2 separate regions of the Homo sapiens genome follow, and region 1 is linked to region 2. The links come from fine-mapping of genetic effects on gene expression. A gene starts in region 2. The other region holds a variant in brackets. All regions are shown on one strand. Distances are between the middles of the regions.

Evidence for each region. PIP is the estimated chance that this variant, and not a neighbour inherited with it, causes the effect. A credible set is the group of variants that fine-mapping cannot tell apart.
Region 1: its variant is the best candidate, but not a certain one, in a credible set for the expression of LINC01140 in nasal epithelium (TOPMed, PIP 0.82).

The regions. Positions count from the first base shown.
Region 1 is chr1:87,220,172-87,222,964 of GRCh38, forward strand. LINC02801 (long intergenic non-protein coding RNA 2801) reads left to right here. Exons shown (of 4, transcript NR_167752.1): 2 at 12-173. Among named protein-coding and RNA genes, the nearest start is that of LINC02801, 8.9 kb to the left of the region's middle. The variant T/C (reference allele first, on the strand shown) is at 1,556.
Region 2 is chr1:87,128,592-87,131,384 of GRCh38, forward strand. LINC01140 (long intergenic non-protein coding RNA 1140) reads left to right here and starts at 1,174. Exons shown (of 3, transcript NR_026989.1): 1 at 1,174-1,403.

The sequences.
Region 1 (2,793 bases), 92 kb after region 2:
TTTGATTGCAGAAAAGGAAGAAAGTACCGGATTCCACACTGGGATTGATATGTGTGGGACAAAGGTAGCTGGTTCAGAAATTGGAGCTGAAAACCTTGAGAAGAGGTCCCTTGGAAGTGGCAGCAATCTGGAGGAGAGCTTTGGGTTTCCAAAGGCCACAGAATGGGTGGGAGGTAAGTTCTGGTCAATTTTCTTCATACCCACAAAGAGCTGGGGAGCCTCTGGCTGGCATCTGTGTTACCCTCAACAGCTACAGCTTCTCCAAACTAACTACCAGCCTGCTCTGGTCTTGACTGGCTCAAATATTCTCTTGCTTCTTCTCCCCACATGTCTACCTGGCCAGTGTGTGTAGGCGTAAGAGAACCAGCTGGTAGTATGAGGATGCTGGTTAGGAAAGATGGAGCACCAGACAGTGGAAGAGAGACAGGGTCCAAGAAAAGAGAGAATCAGTAAAGAAAGCAGAAGCTCCATTTCATAGCCCTCCCTCTACCATATGAAAGAAAGCAAAACAAATACATGTCCCAAGCCAAAACTGACACAAAAACTGATCCCCCCTGCCAAAAAAACCATCACCACAACAAGAAAACCCCACTTTCCGGTGGTAAGGTAAAGGGAGAACAGGCAACAACAGCAAAGTGTGGGTGACCTCGTTGCACGTGGCACAAACGATGAGCTAAGATGGAGTTTTAGGCCAAGACAGCAGAAGGTGGCCACAGGGATATTTCATGCCTTATTCAGTGTTCACAGGTACACCTAGTGAGAACCCATGTCTTAAATTCTGTCCCTGAGTGTGAAGTTGAAGCAGAAGGCCCATTAAAAAGGGCCTTTAGGAGTGCTGTGGAGAGTTGATAAAGGTGTGAGAATCCTGCAATGGCTGACATCACAAAGAGAGAACTTGAGATCCCCTTTCAAGTCCTGGCTGAGGGTTTTGACTGGAAAAGCTGGTTTTAAACACTGACATTATGAATGCTTGGGATGTGAGTAAAACACCTGAAATTCTTCAGCCAGTTGTGAATAGAGGAATAGTCCCATTTTTTAATGGCTTGACTTAGTCACTGAAGGTGATTTCCTAAACCCCAGAAAATTGTTACAAACCATCAGACTGTGGGTGCCACAGCCCTTAGTCAGTAAAATAGCCCCACATGGTGGGAAAACATTCCAATCTCTCTCCAAAATGGGAATAAAGGCATTCAACAAAATTACTCGGACTTTAAAAACACAATACCATTTCTCACTTTGCGTTAGTGTAGTAACAAATTCTAATGGAGGTAATTCTCAAGTATGCAATTGTATAAACTTGCCTTCTGAATGGAAAGATTGGAATTTAGGCAGCTGACCCCTGGCGTGATGTTTATGATCAGATCCAAGACAGGGCTGTCTGCCTGTCATGTCCCAGTCGGTACCACCCTGCCCAGCATCTATGTTTGCTAAGGGTGTACATATACAGCAAGATCTGAATCAATGAAAACATATCCCATGTCTTTATGGAGTGACCCAGAAAGAATAGCGTTTATACTGACCAAGAATACGGTTCACAGAAGTTTAAGGAGATTTA[T/C]TGGGCTGCCATTTACTAGCTGTAAAATCAGGATTGTGATAGTCTCTACCTCATAGAGTTGTTGGGAGAATCAAATATGATCACTGTCATAAAACTTTAGGCTAGAGCCTGACACTCAGCAAGTATACAGTATACACATAGGAAATGGTACTAGAACTTTTGTTAATACGTGATGGGAAGTTTCTATGGTGTGGAAAATTTTTAAATGAATGAAACACAGTCCTTTCTTTAAGAATCTCACTGAAGAGGGAGTAGAAGAAGACAGGTCAGTGGATAATTATGATATACAGGTCATAGTAAATACAATGTATAATAATAGGAGTAAATATTGAGTATTGCTTTAGGAGACGTGTCAGTGCTCTGACATAGGGAATCATTAAGGGTGAAAGGGCCATCTACTTGCATGAAGCCTGTAAATGTGAAAGACTAGGTCCTAGCAAGGCCAGCATTGCCATTCTGCTGTCCTAATGATGGATGGGGATTCGTGAGCAATTGAATTGAGCCACTGCCATTACTATTGATTTTTGGGATAGACTTCTCCATCAGAGCCAGTAGGCCACAGTCTGGGTCAGTGGCCAGACTGACATAAGTTTATGACCTTTCATAGGCTTCCCATGTGTCTCACCACACACCCATCTGCCCGGGGCCTAGGATCAAGCTGGCGGTAAAGGACTTGAGAAAATGAGGCTTGAATTAAGTGACCTCAGATCTAAACCAAATGTGGCTGGAACCTCTTTCTTGTTTTGAGAAGGATTTTTTGTTGTTGTTGTTGTTGTTATCAGAGCTTTGGAAGCAGTTTAATGAAGGGCGTAGATGTGGAAATGAGATGCATGTAGGTTTCAATAGTAGCTCCTATTGCCTTGCTCTTTGACCTTAAGAAAGTTTCTTACCCACTTTGAATCTCAGTTCGTTGTCTACCAAACAGGGAAAATGAAACCTACCTTATTAGGATTTGGGGGTTTTGTTGTTCATAACAGCTTCTTCAAGATATAATTTACATACTATATAACATTTCACCCTTTTAAAGTGATTTCAGTCAGTGATTTTTTAGTATATTTAGAGTCATGCAACAATTGCCACTATCTAATTCCAGAATATTTTCATCACCCCCATAAGAAACTCATACCCATTAATAGTCACTCTCCATTCCTCCTTTCCCCTATCCCTCCCAGCAACCACTTATTTCAGTTTCTCTGGATTTGTCTATGCTAGACATTTCATGTAAAAGAAACCATACA
Region 2 (2,793 bases):
CCATGGTCGGCTCCCCATGATTTTGTGTCCCCGCTTCTGGGCTGGCTTCTTACAGCGGATTGCAGCTGTGCCCCAGCAAGAAGCTGGCCTCTCTGGATCAATCACTCCAGAAGCGCAGAGGAAAGGGGAGCTTGCCTCAGTAAGCAAAAGTCACCATTATCTGATTATCTTTAGGGATTCCCTACTATCTGGATAGCTAGTCATGACTAGAGAAGATTCTGCATGGAGACAATATATCATTTATTTGGCTTTTATTTTTACTGAATTCAGTGCTCATGGAAAGTGGCACATTGACAACGCTGCTTCCTAGCATGACATCACATAAATAAGTTTGAAGATACTGCTTAATAAGAACCCTTTAAAGATAAGAGAAATGGTAGAAAGAATTGAAGGATGCTGTTTCCTTTTTAATATCTGCCATGAATCATAGTCCAGAGAGAAGACAGCCGAGGCATGCAGGGACAAGACACTAGCACAGGGGTCAGGAGATGGGCATTCACAGTGGGTACAGCTCAGATCCCTGCCTTTGCTTTGGCCTGAGGCTGGGCAGACAGGGACATGGAAAGCTATGGGGCTGGTCTGAAGGGTAGGGTGGGGTGGTTAAGCCTTTGCTGGCACATGGCTTTGCAATCTTGTACACTGAATAAATCCATCAGAGCACTGCATCCACTCACCCAATTAGCCTGCACCTCATGAACACCTATTGTGAGGCCAGCACCATGGGGAAACTGAAAGAACCAGATATTCTACCACCATGGAGGAATGACCTCACCCTGGGTAGTAACTCTTCCCTTCTGCTCATCTACCCAAAGGTAAAAGAAAGTGCAAGTTTCCTAGTTTACATTGTGTTTCTTGAGGGAGAAAAGGCTCTTGGTAAAACAATGCCTTATTCCTTTCGTTTGGAAGTTCTTTCTGCAGAATACAGCTCAACTGGGGGTCCCCAAAAGGCCCCTGAATAATTTAAAAAAAAAAAGAGGTGGTGTCAGGCAAGGGCTTTAGGACGTAGAAGGTCACTTTTGGTTGTTGTCCTGTTGATCCAACTGCTTTACTAACTGGAGCTATTGCTCAAGCTGGAGGGTGAGGGAATGGGTGGGGCTGAGGCTGGGAGTTGCTCAGTAGTTGACCCCAAGTGATCTTGTTTGAGGAAAACTCCTGTGATCCCCCATCAGAATATTTTGAAAGTGGAAGAGTCTGCTGGCGGGAAGGGAGAAGAGTGGGAGGAGGAAATAAGCAACAGGCAGCTTCCTTTCTTGACAGATGGAAAATAAAGGGCCTGTGCACAGCTCGGCGAACTGCTCCGTGGACCTCCCAGCGGGGCTGCTTTCTGAGGTGATGGTCTCCTCGCTCCTTAGCCAGCCTGGTGGAGCCAGCTACTGACGTTGGAAAGGAGTTGGAGGATGGAGGTTTGTGGCCGGCAAATGAGAGGTGTCGGGGAGGGAGAAGAGAAAAGCAAGCGGGCTGAGGAAAAATGTAAGGGAGGGAGATGGTTCTTCGATGAAACCTCTGGCCTCTTTTAAACCATAAAGAGGTCTGGCTGGTTTGATTCCAGTCCATAAAATGGCTCAGTAGGATCTTAGGGATTATTTAGCTCAAACCCCTGAGAGGTGAGGAAACTGAGGCCCAGAGGTCCCACTTGCCTTTGGTCATGGGGTGAGTATGTAGCCCAGCAGGGTCCCAGCTCCTGTGAGCTGCGATTCATGGTGTTATCTTTGCTGGGGAGGCCTGAAGTTCCTTTAGCTTGTCCATGTGAAACAGAGGAAGAGCCCACAAGGAACGCATTCATCTCAGAGTTAGGTGACCTTGGCTTTGGGATCTAGTTGCTCATTACTTCCACTTTCCTTGCCAACATCTTTCCTAAGCCTTCCAGATCAGGGCACAGTACCACTCCCTTGCTGCCAGACAGGTGGCCTGTCGTGTGGGCAGGAAGGGGAGTTCAAGGCAAGCAAGGCCCACTGTGAACCCCCTGCTAGAAGTGCTCTCCCCTTCCTTCTTTTGGAGGTGGCAGTTACTAGGCAGCATGACCCAGAGGAGGAGATAAGCTGCCTCTGATAGGAAGGTTTTATCTTTGAGGTTATTGCAAATATGCCTGACTTCTTCATCTGGTTCTGTCCGGATCTGAACTGGTAGCCAGATAAACTGTTGGCGGTCCCATTTCATGTATTTATCAAGTCTAAACAATTGTCAGGAGGCAATTATCCCCCAGGAAGCCAATGGCAGATAAATAGTGTCCCGCAGTCTGGTTCCAGCCATGGAATCTGTAAGTTGTCCCTCCTTGCCCTGTGCAGATTTTCTCCTCTGTCCCTGCTGCCCTAAATTTTAAAGGAGGTTTGATGTTCCAACACGTTTGCTTTGGTGTTCTTTGCCCACAGCCCCAAATAAAATCTAATGGTTTTTATAGGTGGATAAATCCTTTTTAAAGGCTCTTTTGTTATCACCATGGGGTTTGTGAGCACTAAAACTGGATTTTAAGGGATCAGTGAAACCTTAGAATCACGGTTTGCTGTATCTGGAAGGAACCATGACCACTTGGTACAGACCCTTCAAGCGGTAGATGAAGAGGCCAAAGCACGAAGGGATTTGATGGCTTGTGAAGGCAACGTGCTCTTCAGAGTCGGGCAGACGTGCAGCTGAAGCTTGGTCTGGCCACTGATCTGCTGCCCGGCCTTGGGTAAACTCCTGGAGCCCCTATTTCCTTATTGATTACATGGAGATACCAATCCAGACTGCACAGTATTGTGAGAGGTAGTAAAACTGTTTCCCTCTGGTCGAGGTCAAACAGACAACTGGGGGGCA